Regions from separate parts of the Homo sapiens genome. Here regions 2, 3 and 4 are each linked to region 1. The links come from fine-mapping of genetic effects on gene expression. A gene starts in region 1. Each other region holds a variant in brackets. All regions are shown on one strand. Distances are between the middles of the regions.

Evidence for each region. PIP is the estimated chance that this variant, and not a neighbour inherited with it, causes the effect. A credible set is the group of variants that fine-mapping cannot tell apart.
Region 2: its variant is the best candidate, but not a certain one, in a credible set for the expression of BBS9 in subcutaneous fat (FUSION, PIP 0.87).
Region 3: its variant is the best candidate, but not a certain one, in a credible set for the expression of BBS9 in whole blood (INTERVAL, PIP 0.81).
Region 4: its variant is the best candidate, but not a certain one, in a credible set for the expression of BBS9 in testis (GTEx, PIP 0.80).

The regions. Positions count from the first base shown.
Region 1 is chr7:33,126,496-33,132,270 of GRCh38, forward strand. BBS9 (Bardet-Biedl syndrome 9) reads left to right here and starts at 3,069. Exons shown (of 23, transcript NM_198428.3): 1 at 3,069-3,546. RefSeq lists enhancers at 2,482-2,531, 3,022-3,131 and a silencer at 2,672-2,971.
Region 2 is chr7:33,702,486-33,708,260 of GRCh38, forward strand. No RefSeq gene overlaps it. Among named protein-coding and RNA genes, the nearest start is that of FLJ20712, 21 kb to the right of the region's middle. RefSeq lists an enhancer at 2,747-3,615. The variant C/T (reference allele first, on the strand shown) is at 2,506.
Region 3 is chr7:33,191,955-33,195,954 of GRCh38, forward strand. The region is part of intron 5 of BBS9 (Bardet-Biedl syndrome 9); the gene reads left to right. Among named protein-coding and RNA genes, the nearest start is that of BBS9, 64 kb to the left of the region's middle. The variant T/C (reference allele first, on the strand shown) is at 1,678.
Region 4 is chr7:33,660,888-33,666,662 of GRCh38, forward strand. No RefSeq gene overlaps it. Among named protein-coding and RNA genes, the nearest start is that of FLJ20712, 62 kb to the right of the region's middle. The variant G/A (reference allele first, on the strand shown) is at 2,646.

The sequences.
Region 1 (5,775 bases):
AAAAGGAGAAACAATCACATTGCAGAAAGTTTTTCTTTACTTTTTTGGTACCTGGCCTAAGGAAGATTATACATTTTATCAACATAATTTCCTGTGTTGCTTTTATTAGATTTGATTTTTTTTTAACCTGAAGTTTAAAATGGTTAAGATAGTTTTAATGTAATTATTTGTATGGCTTTTTAAGCCTTTTGATTATCACTCTGGTTATATAAATGACTTATTTCACAAGTAACTTGTGATTCTGTATTGATACAGTGTTTTGAGCCCTTTAAAAACTTCCTCAAAATCAAATTCCAATTTAAGTTTTTTAAATGTAGAATTAACTTTGGAATTTTCCAGTTGGACTCCTGGAAAGCATTAAAACATATCTTTCTCATCTTTTAGAGGTATTAAATGATTTGGGTTATTTGGTAAATTTTATAAGAAATATTGTCAAACGATAACTGATACTAGATTTTTCTTTTATTTGCATTTATGGGAATATTGTTTATATGAATGTTTGAAAAATTATATAAGTCCATACAAGTATGCTGGGAATGATGGCTCATGCCTATAATCCCAACACTTTGGGAGGCTGAGGTCAGAGGATTACTTATAGCCAGGAATTTGTGTCCAGCTTGGGCAACAAAACAAGACCCTGTCTCTATTAAAACAAAACAAAACAAAACAAAAACAAAAAAAACCAAAAAAAAACCAAGCATGGTGGTACAAACGTGTAGTCCCAGCTACTTGAGAGGCTGAGGCAGAAGGATTGCTTGAGTCCAGGAGTTTGAGATTGCAGTCAGCTATGAATGTGCCACTGCACTCTAGCCTGGGCAATAGAGCAAGACCCCATCTTTAAAAAAAATTCGTACAAATGTATTATATTACCAGTCATAATTCTGGTTATCTTAAAATACTGTATATAATAGCAATAAATAAATGTTCTTCTCAGTTGTTAACTTCATCAGATTTTTAACCATGGCTATTTTAAGTTTTTGTCATCCATATTATTGTTTTGAATTCTTTTTTAAAAAACAGACTCCTGGAAAATATTCTAACAAGTACTCTTTTATTTTTATTTATTTATTTTTGAGACAATCTTGCTCTGATGCCCAGGCTGGGGTGCAGTGGCACGATCCTGGTTCATTGCAACCTCTGCCTCCCTGGTTCCAGTGATTCTCATGCCTCAGCCTCCTGAGTAGCTGGGATTACAGGCATGCGCTACCACGCTGGGTTAATTTTTTGTATTTTTAGTAGAGATGGGGTTTCACTATATTGGCCAGGCTTTTCTCCAACTCCTGGCCTCAAATGATCCTCCCGCCTTGGCCTCCCAAATTGCTGGGATTACCGGCATGAACCATTGTGCCTGGCCCTAAAATATACTCTTAGATTTGGGTTTCTAACAACTTGAAGATCAATGGACAATATAACAATTTCCAGAACTGTAATAAAAAAGTGGGTTCATGAAACTATTAATCAAGATCAGGCAGAACAAGAATTAATTACGTGAGTTTAACTAATGAAGACAATGTTTTTATGATATTATTTCAAATGTTGTTGGTTCTTTACTCAAATAGTTTTTTCCAGATTTAAGAAAATCTTGTCTTTTAAGCTATTTATAATTTACAGCAATTTGATAGAGTATACTTGTGTAAAAAAAGATAAAAACTTTTTTTCTCTTTACTTGATTCCTCCATAATTAGAAAACCATTTGTGAGTCTTCTTATGGTAATATGGTCATTTCAATAAGTCTAATAAAAATCTGCTCTCTCTGTATAGCAGAATACAATTGGAAACTGGTTATATTACCAAGGCTTTGACTGAAAGGTCATTTTTAAAAATATTGAGGCCGGACGCGGTGGCTCACGCCAGCAATCCCAGCACTTTGGGGGACTGAGGTGGGTGGATCGTTTGAACCCAGGAGTTCGAGAGCAACCTGGACATGGCGAAACTCCATCTCTACAAAAAATACAAAAATTAGCCAGGTGTGGTGGTCTGTGCCTGTAGTCCCAGCTTACTAGGAAGGCTAAGGTGGGAGAATCGTTTGAGCCCGGGAGGCTGAGGCTTCAGTGCTTCAGTGAGCAGTGATCCTGTCACTGCACTCCAGTCTAGGCGACCCTGTCAGGGAGACCCAGTCTCAGTTAAAAAAAAAAAAAAAACCCAAAACCCAAAAAACTAAAACTAGAATGGTATTTTCTACTGGGAATGTGGATTTGTGGATTGATGGTGAAATACTGGAAATTTAAAGCCTACACTAGAATCCATTGAAAAAAGCAAACAAGAAAAACTTCAAGGTTGGCTACATTGAATTTGAATGTAAAGATTAAAAAAAAATAAGTAAAAAACAAAAGAAGACATAGATCCAATCCCATATACCAGGAAATGCACTCTAAGGTATATACGGAAAATATATTTAACACATGTGTATCAGGACGCAGGCACAAGTAACTTCAAAGCAGCGCTGTTTCAAATAGTAAAAAAAGGAAAAACTGGAAACTGTTCAAAAGCTTCATCATCTCGATGATCTTGGTCTTCCGCCTCGCCTTCTTCTCCAAGGTGAATATGTACTGGGCCAGCACCACCCCCGCCACCAGGGCGCACACGCTGGCGCTCGCTACCGCGACCACCCTCGCCACGGTCGCGCGGTGCATGGACGGGGCCCTCATGAGTGTCCCGGCAGGAAAAAAACACCGCGATTGGGACTCTCAGAAGCGCAGGATCCCAGAGCACCATGGACAAGCCAGTGACGCCCCGCCCCCACTAGGCCCCACCCACACGCACCGAGGGGAGAGGGCGGTCACGCGGCCGGGGGGGCGTGGCCTGCCCCCGGAGCCCAGGCAGGAGGAGGGTCTTCCTTAAGGAACTGCTGCCAGGACAGGGCAGAGGATTGCAGTAATTATCACTCTCTGCTAATGAGGACCAGGCCGTGGTTCACTCGAGCCCCGCCCCAGTAGCAATCTAATTCCAACCGCGGCCCTCTCAGAAGTCGGTCCCCGCCTTTGCGCCTCAGCCTCTCTGGACTCCAGCCCCCAGAAGTCGGCGCGGCACGGCGTGACCTGCGCAGTGGCGTCCGTTGTAAGTGCTATGACAACAGGGCGAAGATGGCTCAGAGTTAGGCTGGAGAGGGGAGGTGTCCCTTCCGCTGCGGCCGTCGGGTTTCTGCTACATCCCATTCACCGCCTCCTCCATCCTTTCCTCCTCGGTGTGAGCAGCAGGACTTGCATTTGTTCTCGCCTGCCTAGTGTCTTCCAAGGGATAGATGCCGTTTCCTCTGCTGGTCTCTGGGGGTGACGGGGGGCGCAGGGGAGCTTCTTGGGGGAATCACTCCAACTCTGTGGAGCTGGTGGTGCTGCCTGGTGGGGCTCTCTCTTTGCCCGGGACGTGGAACAACTTTCAGCTGGAGGACGAGAGGGAATAGTGAAGCTAAAGGTTGCTTTTCTCTGCACCGTCCGTTCTTGCTCCCTCTGCTCCATCACTGGGACCTTGTCAGGCGTTCATAAAGCAAAATTTGCCGAACGAGGGTTCGCAGAAAGGTGGGGCAGAGCTCATCTGACGTGGCATCAGGTAAGATGGTATGTCTGTTGTTAAACTTCGGGTACATGAATACCCTTTCCATGTTTTATTTTGTGAACAAGATTCTCTAATGCAGTATAATGGTTTGGAGTCTGTAAGGTGATTGATTTCTTAGATGTTTGCACTGAAATAAACAAACACTAGGAGCACAAAGTGTATGAGATTCTGTGAGTACTTTTGAGAAAAAAGGGATGAGAATTTTTAAGGATTCCATTGAGGAATGTCACTTGGAGCATGAGCATCCTCCTGAGACACTTCAACAGGTCTGTGAGTAAATGGGCAAAGCAGTTCCCAGCCTACGACTGAAGTAGGATGCATGTACTAATACCCCCAATCCTTCTAGTAATAGGATTATTGTTTCTCCTCTTGTTACTTGGAGACCACAACAGTTTAGATGAGCTGCGCTGATTTTATCAGCACCTCCTGCCAGTCAAATCCTGCCTTTGACTTCAATTTCCTGGAGAAATGTATTTTTTTGGGTATCTCACTTTTACTTTAAAAATGAAACCGTATCTTACAGGTATACACATCTTACATGTCCTCATTGATAAACAACTTGAAAGATGCTGCAGGATAAGCTATGGGTCTTAAGTTGGCCAGCATTCAGAGAAAGATTTTCTAACTTATTAGCATTTTATAAAGAAAACAATTACTGAGATTTTTTTCATGAATATACGGAAGAATTAAAAAAAAAACTAGAAAACCCAGAAGTTTTTAAAGAAGAATTTTAAAAAACTTTATTTTGAAAATAAGTTACAAGTTATTTGTCAGAGTTTAAGGGATTTTTCCTTGTGTGTAATTGTCGTGGTTAAATTACAACTATACACTTATATTTATGGTACAACTTCTTGATAGAAATGCTCACTGAAGGGAAAAAATCCAACAGCAATAGTATATATAGTAATTTTAAAACTTTTACACCTTTTGAGGGATGTAGTAAGTCTTACGCTTTAGAATACTTTGAAATATTTTTGAAAATTATTAAAATACATGAAATTATTATAAAACATCCCTGCTGGTTAATAACATTTCCATTAGTGATTACTATCAGTCTTTGTGAGTCCCATTTAAAATTTCGGTCCAGAGGGTGAGTTTGGCATTCGTAATTGTGTCTTGCACAGAACACACTACCACCGTCTCTTTCAACTACCACTACTACCACTGTCTCTCCTACTAGCACTGTTTCTACTGTTGGGTTATTACTGACATCTATTGAGTACTTGCTATGGGTTGAGCCATTTTATCCTCCTCCACCCTAGAACAATTGAGATACTAGAGGATAAGGGACTTGTTTAAGATCATGTAGTGTAACGTGGTCAGAAAGTGCACCCAGAGCTGTCCTACTCCAAATTTTGTGTTATTTTGCCCTTTGAGTCTTTTGTTGAAAATTCCAACAGTGAGCCCTTGTATTATTGCCTTCAAAAGCAGTATACTTCTTTTGAACACTACATGCATTTGTCATCTTTCTTTGACTGGAAGACCTGATTTCTACTTTCTTAAATTTGGTGTGACACTGGCATAACCTGGAGAAAGCAAAGCTCTGAAAATGAACAACAGCTGCAAGGTCTGTTTCCAGAACTGACCTTCAAACCTGTATGTTTTTTCCACAGCATTCTTTGGGGTTATTGTTTTCACAGCTGATCATATTGTAGGACTAGGTCAATGAGGTGTTCAAGACCAGCCTGGGCAACATAGTGAGACCTCGTCTTTGCCGAGCATGGCAGAAAAAATAAAAATTATTAAAACTTTTTAAAATATTAAAAAAAGAACAATAGCAAATTAAATTCAGAAGGTCAGCAAAAAAAGGTCAGCCACCTCTTAAATGAAACCTAAATCTGAGTAAACTTGTTGTAGAAAAAAAAGTATTCAAAACAAAAAAGTGTCAAGTGAAGAGTATAGAAGAGAATTTCTGGAGTTTAGGGGATAAGGAGATTATCTCCCATTTATTATTCTAATAAGGCATTAGAAACTAATCTGTTATGCCTGTTTATAGGACTGCACCTGTTACAACCTTCAAATTATTGTCTTCTAATCATCCTTTAACAATTTAATCAAATTTATGACATACTTGCCTGTAGTTTGAACTTGTAGTGTTTAGAATTAGTGTGAATAGAGCTATTGCTTTTATAGTCTACATGGAGGGGCGTGTGCATAGGCCGTTTGTTTAGGGTTCTGGAGTAGACAGTCTGGGTTTAGGTACCGCACATCACTTAACTAGTG
Region 2 (5,775 bases), 580 kb after region 1:
AGACTCACATCATTTCATTTTCCCCCTGGCTGTTTCCAAATATCAGGCTGTAGCCCATCTAGCCCCTGGCAATGTCTTCTCTATTATGACCTGTGATGTGTCCTCTCGCCTGGCTTCTGCCCAGCGTGTGGGTGCCCCATATGTTTGCCAAATGAACTGGACTGAAACAATATCTTCTAATACTAAGAGTGATCTAGTTTCTCTAGAAGACTGCAGATGTCAGGAAAACATTGTGGGTAGCTGTATTAGGTTTCCATTGCTGCCACAGTGAGTTACTACCAATTTAGCAGCTGAAAATAATACCCATTTATTATCTTGCAGTTGTGTGGGTTAGAAGTGTGAATTGGTCTCACAAGCTAAAATCAAGGTGTGGGCAGGGCTGCACAAGGAGGCAGGGGCCCTTGTGGAAAATGTGCTTCCAGTTTCATTCAAGTGGTTGTAGGACTGAGGTCCCCACTTCATTCCCGGCTGTTGATCAGGGTCATTGTCAGCTTCCAGAGGCTGCCTGCATTATTTGAGTCATTGCCCTTTTCCTCTTTCTTCAAAGCCAACAGTATGGGTTGAGTCTTTCTCATGTTTCACATCTCTCTGACCTCCCGTTAGCTCATCTGTCCCCTGCCTCCCTCTTCCACCACCTTCTTCTGGTTCCCTCTTTTGCCTTCCTCTTCTGCTTCTCAGGACCCAAGTGATTGCGTAGGGTCCAACTGGATGATTCAGGATAATCTCCCTATTTTAAAGTCAGCTGACCAGTAACCTTAATTCATCTGCAAAGTCCCTTCATAGCATCACCTAGATTTGTGTTGAATTGAATGACTGGTGGGTAAAAATCTTGGGGACATCTTTAGAATTCTGCCTACTACAGTAGTGATTTTTAGAGAGATCACGGAACCCCTTTGCGGACAGTAAGTTGCTAGAGGTCAGGGCTAGGGTCAACCGCAGTAGATGAATGTTTTGAAATCATTATTTTAGTCGTGGCCATAGATGTCTACAGATGACAGACCCTGTGGCTAATAGAGCAGATCTGGGGAGAATAGACTCATGTTTATCCTGGGCTTTACAGTTTACAAACAGCTTTTTTAGAATTGGCTTAGATGTTTGAATACCGGGCTGTATGCAGAGGGCAGGCAGGGGATCTCAGAGGTGCCTCAGGAATTGCTGAAAGGTGGGGAGTGTTTAAATACCGGAGGGGTTAAACTGGCAGGCACACTCTTCCTCAGCCCTAAATCTGCTTTGATGTGTTTTGGATAATGGACTCCAGTACAAAAGACTTCTGAGGATACATCAGAAAATCTTTTTTTTGCTCTAGTGCAATCTCATTTTGACCCTCAAATACTATGCTTCAGCTTGATTATTTTTTAAAGACAGCAGACATGGCACTGAACATCTTGGGTTTTTCCTAAAAATCATAGTATGGTACCATGAAGTGTATTCAAAATGATGTGCCTATGCTGAATGCAACTGCAAAAGAATTTCCCACACACATAGATAACTCTGTGTGTGTGTGTGTGTGTGTGTGTGTGTGTGTGTGTGTGTGTGTGTGGAGACCTCCTTAACATAAGCCTAAGTCCCATATAGGAGTCCACTTTGAAGAGGATGAGACTCATTTGGATGGATATACTTTTCTACCATATTTGTTAGGAAAAAAGTCACCTAATTTTTACCATCACGACTCATATTTAGGTTTTGATAGATTTAATAAAGGCCTTAAGATCACTGGAAAAAGGACAAAGAGGAAATGGAAAATACTCTGGGTCCATGGCATGTTATCAACCAAAATATTAAAGTTGTACATTGCTAAGCTTTCAGACTTTTCTCTTGCATTTGGAAAAGGATGGGTTTTCCTTCTGGCTGCAGAATTTACAGTATTATTGAAGCTAGCTGTTATTTCAGTGAGAACTCTGCTCTCTATAAGAAAAGCATTAGCAGTGAGAAGTTAGTGAAGTAGTTGATTTGGGGGTATTTCCTAGAGAGAAAATAACACTTTTTTTCCCCTTGAAGTGTCTTTTCTTCCCTTGAAGTGTTCCTGGTGCGGTCTTGCTTTATCTGGGGGGTGGGGTGCTGGAGAAGGAGGGGTAACTTGATTGTAGGGGGATGTCAGGCCAGGGAAATGGATGGGAGAAGAGCCGGCTTAGGATGCTGCTTCTAGTCCCCCTCCCCTCGCTGTGCACACACAGACACATGCACATCAGTGGTCAGTTTAGCTGCAATATTCACAGCACATTTGCTGGGGTTCAATTGATCACTGCACACAAGAGATAGAGTCAGCAAGGATGTGGTGCGGAGAGGCCAGGGGCTTGGGGGCTTCCGCTCTCACACATCTTCAAGCCCCATTTTGAAATGGTTTGAATTAATGACACTTATTCAGACAGACAAAGGAGGTAAATGGAAATATTAGACAAGGCTTTGCACCTACTTTGCTCAACATTTCCCGTCACCTTGAGTGCTGGAAACACTCCACAGTCTTGCTCAGCCTGACCCAGGAGCCGCATGAGCTCACATGCTGCT[C/T]GCAGACTAAAGCCAAGGACCCTATTAGCGGAGGTTCACTAGACCAGTCTCAGGGACCTGAGCCCCTGTCCTCCAGCATCAGGGCTGCCCTCTTTGGGGGTGCCAATCCTCTCACCGATTTTATCATTTTTGTGCTATTTTGCTGGCAGTGCATGGAGTAAGGGCACCATTGAAAAACTCATACCAAGTCGCATTTGAGTTTGCTGGCTGGGCTGCCAAGCATCACCAAGCCAACAAAGTGAGGGCTAGGAGTCAGAGCTCGGCTTGAATCCTCACTTTGCCATTCACTATGCGTGTGACTTTCATCAAGCCACTTACACACTCTGAATTCATCAGCCACACAGGATCCTGTGAGGCTTCACCGAGACAAGCTGCGTCAAATGCGTGTAGGAGCATGTGCTCCCGAGTCCTTCTGCCTTTGTCTTCCTGGTCCACCTCTGCTTCCTTACCAGATAAGCTGGAGCACAGGTCGTGGGACCCTACAGGGAAGCAGAATCTCTAGAGCTACTTGATCTGGCAGGATATGCTCATTTGCAGAGTTTGAACTTGACATTGATGGCCTGCAAAGCCATTCTTTAGCCAAGCCTAGGAATTTGTTCCCAGGGAAGCAGCTGGCTTTGTTTTTTTGTTTGTTTGTTTGTTTTTCCCTGCTGGGCTGTGAAAAGCTATCCCATTTCACCCTCCTTCCACAGGTAAGGGGCAAGAGTCCCCAGGGTAGGCAGGTGGGGAACAAAGGATTGCAGTACAGATTGAGTGGATGCAGGGCCCCTTTGTTTCATGGCCTACTGTGTGAAGGGAGTGAATGGGAGGCAAAGGCCTGCCAATGAGTAGATTAATTTCACCCTGTCTGCTCCTAGGACTTGCTGTGGGAAACTGCTCTGGCTTCCTGTGTGACACCTCTCTTGCCTATTTTGTGTACACTGGGGAGTAGAATAGAGCATGATCCGGAGTTGGATGGCCCAGGTTCCAATCCAGGCCTCTTGTAGTTCCTGGCTGTATGATCTTGGGCAAGTTACTCAACCACTCTGTGCTTAAGTTTTCACATCTGCTAAATCGAGATAGTAATACAATGCCTGCCTCAGTGTGGTTACAGAGATTACATGAGCAGTATTTAACTTAGTAAGTATTCAATATGTGTTGACATTTTTATTTGTTATTTATCTGTGGCATCATGTCTCCTTAGATTCTAATTTATGCAATTAAAAAATGCATATAGTAGACTTTCTATGCAAACTGATAGTTTTGCAATATCGACAGGTTATTGATTTGGTTCCAGCACCCATTGTCAGGACTGTGAATGAACAAATCTGCTAAGCCTTGATTCCCCAAGACCTGCTCTGTTCACATGTCAGGTGAACCTTTGGCTGACTTTCCCAAGACTGAGCTATAAAACTCCTTTTACAGACTGAAAGATTTTTATTCTGAAAATATTATTTTCACTTTCCTTTCCACAGGGGGTTTACTCTTCTCTAGTGGGCCAATCTGAGTTTTCTTTCAGATTCCATGTTTTTAGTGTAAATGTTCTGAGGGGAAAAGTATACGGTCAGATGAAAGAGCACAGGCTGAGTTCTGGGTGTGTGTATGTTAGTGGAGGTTTTCAAATGCAAATATTTGATAAAAGTATGTGGTTTTGTTTATTTTATGTATATCTATATATTAGAAATGTTAACTTGAACTGAACCGTTTAACACGCTTAATCCGAGGCAGATGGAATGGTCAGTGAATTATTTTTGTAAACCACTTCTGTTGGCATTCAGAGCTTCCTTTCGTATTGATTCCATTCTGGCCGACCACTCGAGGTTTCACCAAAATAAGCTGGTGCCAGACTCCACTTCAATGACATATGTGTTTGTTCCCCTGAAACACAACACAATTGCACATTTCTCCAGCCCATAGAACTGCTTTTGTAACTAATTAGACCAGACAGGGTGCTGCGGAGAAACCACGGACACAGCACTGCATCCTGATGGATATTCATACGGGCTGGTCCTTTAACAAAGTGAACAATTGCCCAAATAATTATTTCCTGCTGTGGACTCCCTCTTTTTTTAATGCTTGGTTTGTTAGATCCTATTTTTCTTCCTACTTTCCTGTTGACTGCAGCTAAATTGAATTTGGTCCAACCCATCTCACACTGGGTCAGCAAAAATGCTTCACTCTGTTGGGGGAAAGGAGTTAACCCTTTGAATGCTGCCTTGGTAAAGGTAAATGAGGAATGAGATAGAAATGGAATATGTTATATTAGGATCATGATCATTTTTGGTGAGGAATGTTTGTCACGTTTCATGTTGCTACTCAGAATACAGAGTTAGGGAAAGGTGAGCAAAGTATCACAAAGAAGGAGGGTATCTTTAACCAAAGGGCTTCTCTAGAAATGCAGTATATATTTCATGGGAAGGGCGGGTTGTCAGCAAAGTTTAGGACAACTAGAGTAATCACCCTTGGGTAGCAAAATTAATAGAGTGGCCTGAATTAAAAAGGGGAGGGAAGGCAGCTTTAATTCATATCACATCTTAAAGCAATTAGTGGTGGGAGTACACTTCTCATTTGTGGTTTTTCAGTGCTTGAAGGCTGAGAGGTGTTGTGTTGCTGAGATCATATGGCTGGGTCTGTTCAGTGCACAAGATCCCTCGTTGTCAAACCCAGGAAAGAGAAACAGCTGTGAGAAATGTTCTGGCCAACATCAGCAAGTGTGATTTTGTTGGGTGTGTTGTGGCTTCTGTCTTCTATTGTGTGAAAACTGTCCCCATCCGGTAAGAGTTTATGGGACTTGCTGTAAGCAGAGATGGTGTCAGAGGCTGTACTTGGCTGTCAGTCCCAGCTGGCCCAGAAATGTAGCTGATGTTTCTGCAGGTGGAATGTCTTGGTCAAAGCATTTTCCTTTTTGATGGAGAGTCTCAAATTTCCCTCCTTGGGTATTGCATGAAGTTTTACTTCCACTTGCAATATATGAGGCTACCTGTTTCCCCTAGCCACTCCACAGAAGCACGTAATCACACTTTAACATTTTTACCAATATGTATTTTAAAAATGGTCTCTCAGTTTTGTTTTAATATGAATTTCTCTTATAAGTGAGATAAACATCTGTTCATATGTTCCTGAGCCATATGTAATTTATTTCTGAACCATATCATCATATCTTTTGCTAACTTTTCCACTGGATTTTTTTTCTCTGTATTTACAAAAGCTCTTTTAATATATCTTATACATATGTAAGGATATTAGCCCTTGATTTATTGTGTAAATTTCACATTTTTCCCAATTTGTTGT
Region 3 (4,000 bases), 65 kb after region 1:
AAAAAAAGTAAATGATTAAGCACCACCTCCCAAACGCAACCACTGAAAACATATATGTGGACAGTAGAATATAATCCAGAATGTTTCAACTTGAGCTAACCCAGAGTAATTTTAGAGTAATTTTACAGTTTCTGGAATTTAGTCATCTTACCACCTAAAGGGCCCAACCAGTGAAAAGCATGTTTATCATGTCAAGTCTGGTGCTGTATAATGGAATGCAAGCAAGTTATGACAATAAATGTTAAATGGAAAAGCCTTTACTTTATATGCATATATCTTGAAGTCAGTTGAGTAATTTATTCAATATTGGTGTTTATTTTGTATTAAAATATATGAATTTACTAGAAGACAGAAAAAAATCTGCGTGATTTGGGTCAAGCTGCAAATAGGAAAAGTGGCATATTATAAGATATTCCTAAATATTTAGTGATGATACATTTCACCTGCAATTCGTGCACTTGAAATCAAAACTTGTCTTTCCTTTAAGATGGCAAAAATATATAGAATAATATAAAAACTGTGCACATTTTATATTTGGGGAAAGACCTCTTGAACTGCACATAAGCTTCTGCTTATTCTTTCTAACTTGCTTTTCAGGTTACTTTTTCAGTCTATATACTTGGAATAATGCTCTTAAATGACTTTCGTTACATTAAACCTGAGATTTCCTGACACGTAGTAGTGTCCTAGTCCATTTGTGTTGCTATACCAAAACACCTGAGACTGGGTAATTTATAAAGAACAGACATTTATTTCTCACAGGTCTGGAGGCTGGGAAGTCCAAAATCAAGGTGCCAGCAGGTTCAGTGTGCAGCTAGGGCCTGTTCCTCATAGATGGCACCACCTTGGTGTCCTCACATGGCAGAAGAACAGAGGAGCAGAAGAGCAAAGGGCCTAAGCTACTTCCCTCCATTCTTTCACAAGGCACTAATCCATTCGTGAGGGTGAAGCTCTCATTACTTAATCACTTCCCAAAAGGCCACACCTCTTAATACCACTACAATGGGAATTAATTTTCAACACAGGAATTTTGGATGACGTTCAGACCATAGCAAGTAGTCTCTTACAGTCATTTTAGATCTATCCCTTTTACATCCTATCCATATTATGTGGATTTGGGCTGCTGTGACCCAGTGGTCACATGACCCACTGGTTGTTGGAGATTTGGTAAATGATACCATAACCATTTTTCACTTGTTAACAAACTGCCCCTCAATTATAATGTGGTATCTCCTATATATATCTATATATCTGTCTGTTAGGGTTTTATTTGGGTTCTTTTTTTTGTTGTTTTAGTTATTTAGCCTCCCATATCACTTTGTCACTGTGTGTTTGTTTTGTTTAATTCATATTCTTATTAAATTGCTCAGTAGTGTGAAATGTTTTTAGAGACCTTTGTTCTGATTCTTGGTTCTGTTTTTCTTCATCTGTCTTTCGCATATTGTCTTCCCCTGTCCCTCTCTCTGCCTTTTTTTTTTTTTTTTTTTGTAGTATGTTTGTGGGTTTGCCAGGCCAGCCTCTTTACCTTGCTTGAGCAATCAAGCTTAGCTTGGCCCACTCTGTTTGGGCCTGTTTGCTTTTTTATGGTGCTGGTGAATTTTTCTTGCCTTCTTTCCTACCCAATCAGAGAGGAGTTTGTTTTCCTTCCTGACGTACTGTTTTGACGGTTGGATATCA[T/C]GCAGTGTGTCTGCTTATCACCTATCTAGGGGCAGTGGAGAAGACATGGGGAGGAAGAAGGGTTGTCTGTAGCAGCCTTACTGTAGGATTTGGCTTCAACCCTCTCTTTTGTGATTTTGCTAAGCATCTTGAATTACTGTCACACTACCTGGTTGGTCTGTAACCTGTTATCTTGGAAGGCTGAGAGATATTCTTAGATTTTGGATCTTCTCTCTTACTATTCATCAGTTTTCCTTGAGTCAGTGCCATTTGTTGCTTCCCTTGTTTGTATTTCATTAGAAGCTGTTTCCATTCGCCACCCCCTACTTTTCTTCTGGTCCTCTGTGGGTGTGTGTGAGGCTTCACATGGCAATTCCTCCTCTCGCCTGTCTTCCACTTCTTCTACTCATCATAATTGCTGGAGATATTTATTTAGCTTGGCTGCTATTTTTTATGGTCTATGGCCTTTCCTGCTTTTTTCTTTTTGCAGAAAAAATACCAAAATGATAAAACCTGTATTTTTCTTTTCTGACCAGAAGGAATGTGGTAAAGGTAGAACTTATGGTATTATGGGCATTTCCATTTCTCTGGGCTGTCTACATCTCCCCTCCCCTTCCTGGATTTGTCTTCCTATAAGTTTGAGAGTTTTAATGAAATTTTCAGAATTTTGTTTATTCACAGCCTCACCCCTCCTTCTCCTTATGTGGAGTTTGGTCTTAGCAGCTTCACAAAATGCACCAAGTCCAGCCCTGAAGATTCTTGGAAACATCTGCTTTATGGTCACCATATTTTAAAGATTGTGGTATGAAATTGTGTTCTTTCTTTGGTTTCATTGCCATTGGTGTATGTTTGCTATTTTCTATAATTTACTTATTTATTTGTTTAATCCACGAAGTTACATTTTTTAAAGGGTCTTTAAAACTAATCCCAATGCTGGATTTGAAAAACGAATGTTCATCATAAAAATTCCTGTGGATTCAGCAGTTCAGTTGTTTGAATAATTCTGGTAGACTTATTTAGTACAGATTAATTTCATTGTATTTGATGTGAATATCTTTTTTCCAGATTGTTATTGGCTTTTAAACTGTGTAAGTGTTTTAATGTGGTCAGATCATTCTTTTCTTGTACACTTTATTTCTTCTAAGCTTAGAAACTTCTCTTCCATGCAGAATTTTGATGTTTCTGTTTCCTGGAGTTTGATTATCTAGCAGGAATTTTTATATTTATTTATAGAGAAGACTATGTGGAGAGAGAGCTAGTATTTATTCTCTTCTATATGTTGTGGTATTGCATTTAGCCCAGTGAGATAACATAATCACCATTTTTTCATACTGGGAGACTGGAGATCAGAGAGATAGAGGTGTTTCTCCAGACACATCCAGGCATAGCTATCTGATTTGAACCCAGAGCTATCTGATTCCAAAGCTCATGTTCTTCCTAATATAGTAACTGTTATTTAATTGCCTTGCTAGTTAGAGAGAAGGTCTATGTGTTCTGAGAAAGGAATGAGAGGGAGGTTTTTCTATAAGCTTCCTGAGGGCAGGGACTGTGTCTTTTGTTCATCACTGCATATCTAGTGTCTTTCACAGTCTTTGGCACATAGTGGGTGCTTAATTAGTATTTGTTGAATGATTGAACCAAAATAGACATTTGATTGGGCAGGGCTGATGTGTTATATACTTTAGACTTTGGGGTTATTTTTTTAGAACACGTTAGCTCAGTTCCATTATTCTAGCCAACTTCTAAGTTTTATTTTCCTCTTTAACAAACATGTTAAAGTATCTATTACAAGGCATGGGTTATTGTGGTCACTGTCTCCCATAGTGGTAAAGTGAGGGTGAGTAACTTGGGCCTCCTGGGTTCACCCTTAGTCACATTATTTCTCAATATGCTGGTGATGCAGCATATTGTATGTAAGTTATCTAGTAGAAATACACTGTCTTATCTAATTGCAACTGTGTTTCTATAGATTACTCTTCCTACTTTTTAGCTTGGAATGTGGTATTCAGAACTATCGAGTATTTGTGATAATGTCCACAAATCAAAATGTTTTTGTTTTAAAAAATTACTTAAATTCTCTAATATTTAGTGTAAAAGACACATCTTTTCATCTGTAACACTTTTCTCTCTGTGTCCTGTGAAAATTCATTTTCCTTTAATTCTTCCAATTTTTCTACTTTGATTGTTTTTTCAGCCAAATGGAAGTTCAGAAAAGTAGAATTTTTACCAAGGAAAATTTAATGTCAGAGTCTAGATATAATATCGGCATGGTATAGATTATAAGGTCTGACAGCACAGTAGTCTCACGTTTGTGACTGAGGTGGAAAAAAATACTGTATATAAA
Region 4 (5,775 bases), 530 kb after region 1:
ACAGTAGCTCTTTAAAATAATGCTTTTCCCCTTCTGTTGATAAAAGCAGTTGTGCATATGGAAGAAAATTTAGAAAGTGCAGAAAATATAAAGAAAATAAAAGCATCCTATAAATCATTAAAATTAGTATCACTGATTAACAATTTGATCTATGTATTTCCTTCTAATCATTTTCTGGGATGTGTGTGTGTGTGTTTGTGTGTGTGTGTGTGTGTGTGTGTGTGTGTTGTATCAAGTTTTCTGTCCTTTATCTCTTGTTTTATTTAACATATATCATACTTTCTCTGTCATTAAATATTTTTTGATACAGGTATTTTTTCATGACTATATAATATTCTACCCTATGACTGTATCATAATTTATAGAAACATTTCTCTTGTTAGATGTTATATTTACTCCCTGCCCCCCACATTTATAAATAATGCTGTAATGAACATCCTTGTACCTAATGCTTTGACCACATCTTGATTATTTTCTTAAAATGAATTCCAAGAATTGGACTTCTGGGCCAAATATTGAACATTTAAGGTACTTGATCCCAATAACAAAATTAGCTTCCAGGCTACAACGTAATTTAAATTTGATTCCTGAAGTCATCTTGGTGTTAAGAGGAGGAATGTAAACCCATGATGTTTAATGAGAAAATCAGATCTCAACTGAAATAGCCATGATTAACGTACAACATATTAAACTTTCCCGCCAGGAACGTGTAATGTTTGTTCTGAAGGTGGCTTTAGACACTTCCTCATTTTATGTGAGTCTAAACTGAAGCCTCTAGAGGCAAAATACTCACCTGAGGTTGCACAGTGGATTGGTGCAGGGATGAGATGAGAACCACTGATGCTAATGTCAGCAGAATATTGCTTGATTTTAAAATTGATCACACTCTATATTTTGTGTGGTTTTCAGCTTTATCTGTTTGAACGTAGCAATCCCATAAAATAGGAAAGGCAAGAGTTATGATGGCCATTTTACAAATGGGAAAACTGAGGCCCCAAGACCCTGAGAGCTTTTTGTGTAGCCCTACAGGTAGTGTGTTTGAGCCTGCAGGCAGGCTGGAATCCTCTGTTCCATGATGCCAGCATCTGTGGTTTTCTGACTTTTTCATAATCGCCATTCTGATTGGCATGAGATGATATCTCATTGTGGTTTTGATTTGCATGTCTCTAACGATCAGTGATGTTGAGCTTTTTTTCATATGTATGTTGGCTGCATGAATGTCTTCTTTTGAGAAATGTCTATCCACATCCTTTTCCTATTTTGTAATGGGGTTTTTTTTTTTTTTTTGTAAATTGGTTTAAGTTCCTTGTAGATTCTGGATATTAGACCTTTGTCAGATGGATAGATTGCAAGAATTTCCTCCCATTCTGTTCACTCTGATGATAGTTTATTTTGCTGTGCAGAAGCTTTTAATTAGATCCCATTTGTCAATTTTTGCTTTTCCATGGTATTTTAAAAAAAATCCTCAAATGATTCCAGTGTGCGGCCAGCGTACAGAACATGGCACTGCACCTAAGATAGCTTAAGAATTCACCTCTCCTGCCACCTCTGATCATTTTGTAGTCTTGCCTGGAGCCTAGTGTTAAGAAGGATGCTGATGCCTTCTTGTCTTAGTGAGAAAGTGAGCTGGGACTCATTTTCTATAATGTCTGCCATGAACTAGACTGGGGAGGGACATCAAAACTGTCCTTGCTATCTTGGCATTACATCATATTGCCATTCTGTTTAGTTTCTAGAAAGTATATTCTCACTAAAAACACATAAAGACAAGGGCACAAACAGGGTTAGTGTGAGGGTATGACTGACAACCAGTCATGAAAGTCCTAAAGCAACTTGCTATGGCCTGCTAAGAATTTCAGGAATATTTTCCTAGCAGTGGTTATCTTCAAGACAAATATGGATCAGGCACAGTATTGCCAGGTTATATTTTGGGATATGTCTCCACAGAACTCATGAACTGACCTTTTCTTTTGCTAGGCTTGGAATTGGTTCGGAAACCTTCCAAGATATATTCTAAACAAAATGGAAAAGTAAAGACAGAAAGCTGAGTGTGGCTTTCGGGGACTTGTATTAGTTTGCTAGGGTGATCATAATAAAATATCACAGACTTGTGGCTTCAACGACAGGACTTTTCTCACAGTTCTGCAAGCTGGAAGCCCAATGTCAAGGTGTCAGCAGAGCTGGTTTCTTCTGAGGCCTCTTTCCTCAGCTTGCAGCTGTCTGTCTTCTCGCTGTGTCCTCACGTAGGCTTTCCTCTGTGTGTATGCAACCCTGGTATCTCTTTGTGTGTCTGAATTTCCTCTTCTTATAGGGACACCAGTCAGGTTGGAATACAGCTCACCCTAATGAACTAATTTTAACTCACCTCTTTAAAGAGTCTATCTCTGTATACATTCCCATTCTGAGCCACTGAGGGTTAGGGCTTCAATATGTGAATTTTAGGGAGACATAGTTCAGCCTACATAAAGATCCTACCTCTATAAACATTCCCATTCTGAGCCACTGAGGTTTAGGGCTTCAATATGCGAATTTTAGAGAGACATAGTTCAGCCTACAATAGGCCCTTGTGAAGTGTTGAAAACTAATGCCTGTCCTTGTTTATTAGGGGCTCAGGCTTTGGGTTGGGATGGTCTCAACCAGGGGCA[G/A]TTTATCCCCCCAGGGCATATTTGGCAATGTCTGGAGACATATTTGTTTGTCATAATTAGGATTAGGGGTTGCTAATAACATCTGGTGAATAGAGACCAGGGGTGCTGCTAAATGTCCCACAATGCACAGCACAGCCCCTCTGCCCCCAGTAACAGAGAATTATCAGGGCCACAATGTCCCTTGACATTTTGCTGAGGTGGAGAAATCCTGGGCTAAATAGACTGCAGTTTGAATCCCTGTGATGATACCTAATACAGGTGTGACTTTATAATATACTCCATCTTTATAAACACCCTCATCTGTAGAGTCCTCACAGTGGGTTAAATGAGATAATCTATTACAGCTTTTAGGACATAGCCTGACTCCTGGGAAGCTCTCAACAACCTTTAAGTGCATTATAGATTTCTCACCCGCAGATGCCTCACTTGAGAGCTCAGGTTGGAATGAGCATTAGGAAGTATCCAGCACGAGGAAAGAGGGACGACCCATCTGGGCACAGGGAAGTAATTGGGGCCACAAGAAGGCAAAGGCCACGACCTACTGAAATATATTGAATTTCATATCTTCTTTGGATGTTTTCCAGTTTTAAATAAGTCTACTTCATTGGGTGAAATATGGCTTGAATTAGGGACAGCCCTTTCTCTGAATGTAAAAGGTTACATCACGCATTTCCAGTATCTGTGCAGCTTGCTGCCTCTTCCTTGAAATCATTTAGAGAGAGGGTTGTTGGGCACATCAGATTTCTTGCTCACTGTGTCAGGTCCAGAAGGTCCTGGAGGAAAAGGGAGAGACAGAGGAGTAGAAAACATTTGTTCAAGCAGGGAGGACTGTTTGACACACACCAACATCCCCGGAGTTTTCTGTTAATTAAAAAAGTCATCAGAATGCATTTGCATATGAGATTCTATGTTGCATTTGTTCAGAAAGATTGACTTGAACTATAAAGTAGCTTTGTCCTCTTTCATTAACTTCCTTCACCCTACAAAGTGTGAACCAGCAGCATTTGCTTCCTGGGGGTGGGGTTGGGGGGAGCTGGTGAGAAAGGCAGAATCTCGGGCTCCACTCGGGGACCTGGGGAGGCAGGACCTGCATTCCAATAAGTTGGCAAGTGATGCTTCTGCAGGGAGAGAAGAGCTGCTCTAGGCTGTGCACCATTTCTCTCTCTCCCCTTTACTGGAATCTTTTCTATCATCACTCTCGTTTAATGGCTTCATGAATTTCGTACATTGTGTTTCTTATTGTGGGCCACCTCAAATCCTTTTTGGTCCTTGATGTTGTATAATATTTAGTCAACGTTAAGAACAAACTGTCCTCCAAACCAGGGTTTGATAGTCCGGGCATTTTCATATGTATTAGAGAAAACATTTTAATAACAGCTTCATGAAGGAGAAAGAGGAGCCATAAGTAGTTTTAACTCAATTTAGGGTTAATAAGTAACCACTATTAATTGAGCATCTACTGTGTATTAGCCCTGGATATGCAGACTCACTCAGTCCTCACAAAATTCTATGAAGTGGGTGTTTTTATCTCCATTTTATAGGTTAGGAATGGAGGCTCAGGAAGGTCATATGCCTTGAATGAGGGGGGGCATTGCTAAGCGGTGGCTTCAAGGGCTTCCCTAGCTCCTATCACCAGCACCAAAACACCCACTAAAATTAATCTAATAAGTAATTATACAATTGAGATAGTTTTGCATACAGTTGTGCATAATAAATGAAATTGTGCTTGCTCTACAAATGTGCTTCAAGACACCCCCTCTCTTTCAACTTGCTCATTCTCCCACTGCCCTTCCAAAGCGAACCCTTTGAGTGACGCTCCACCCAGGGCCACTTAGCTCCACCACAGTGACGCCAAAGTTTCGGCTGGAAACTAAGGAAGTGAAAGTTCTAAGTTGCTTGCCAAGTGCTTTATATTTTTTTAATTTTTAAAATTTTTGTACTTAGTAAATTCGAACCAGTGTCAGTAGCCAAATGCCTTAAAATCAGGAAGGGCTTGGGAAGTTTTCTACAGCATATGACACACCTTCCAAGGATCCCCCTCAACTTGCTAGTCTGTAGTCATCTCCCGTCTGGTTTCTTTAAACAGGAATGTGATTGTCTATCCTGGAGCATGTTGCTCCCCTTTGATTCTAATTTTAAAAGCCCATATGGCGCTGGTGTGTGGGTCTGTCATCTTTCCATCATGCTCTGGGCAGGGTGGAGGGTCCAGTATGAGTTTCTGTGACTAAAGGAGGACTTACAAGACCTAGAGTAGAAGTCAAGATCTCTAACTGTGGAGCTGTGGCAAGGAATTACAAGAAAAGCCTGGGCTATAGGGTCAACCAAGTTAGAATCTTGGTTTTGTCACCTGCTGGAAACCAGGGCTTGGGCAAGTGAGCTCATCTCATTGAACGTTTCGTTTCTAGATAATGAACATCTCAGACTTTTTAAAATTTTGAAATATTTAATTGATGAATAAGAACTGAATATATTCAAGGTATACAATGCAATGATTTTATTTAAGTATATAATGTATAATGATTATCACTATCAGAATAATTAAAACATTCTTCACCACCCATGATGTACATTAGATCCCAGAACTTATTCATCTTATAACTGAAGGTTTGTACAGTTTGATCAGCGTCTCCCCATTTCCCTCATCCCCAGCCTTTAGTAACCACCATTTTACCCTCCTTCTATGAGTTTGAGTTTTTTAGATTCCACATGTGAGATAATGCAGTATTTGTCTTTCTGTGTCTGGCTTATTTCACTTAGCATAATGTCCTCTAGGTTCACCCATGTTGTAACAAATGGCGGGATTTCCTTCATTTTTATGGCTGAATAATATTCCATTGTGTATATGTACCACAATTTCCTTATCTGTCATCCACTGATCGACACTTAGGTTGTTTCCATATCTTGGTTATTGTGAATAATGCTTCTATGAACATGGGAGTGCAGATATCTCTTTGAAGTACTGATTTCATTTTCTTTGGATACATACCCAGTAGTGGGGTTTCTGGATCATATGATGGTAGTTCTATTTTTAACTTTTTGAGAATCTCCATACTGTTTTGCATAAGTGGTTGTACTAATTTAGGACCCACCAGCAGTGTACAGGGCTCCCTTTTTCTGCATCCTTGCCAGC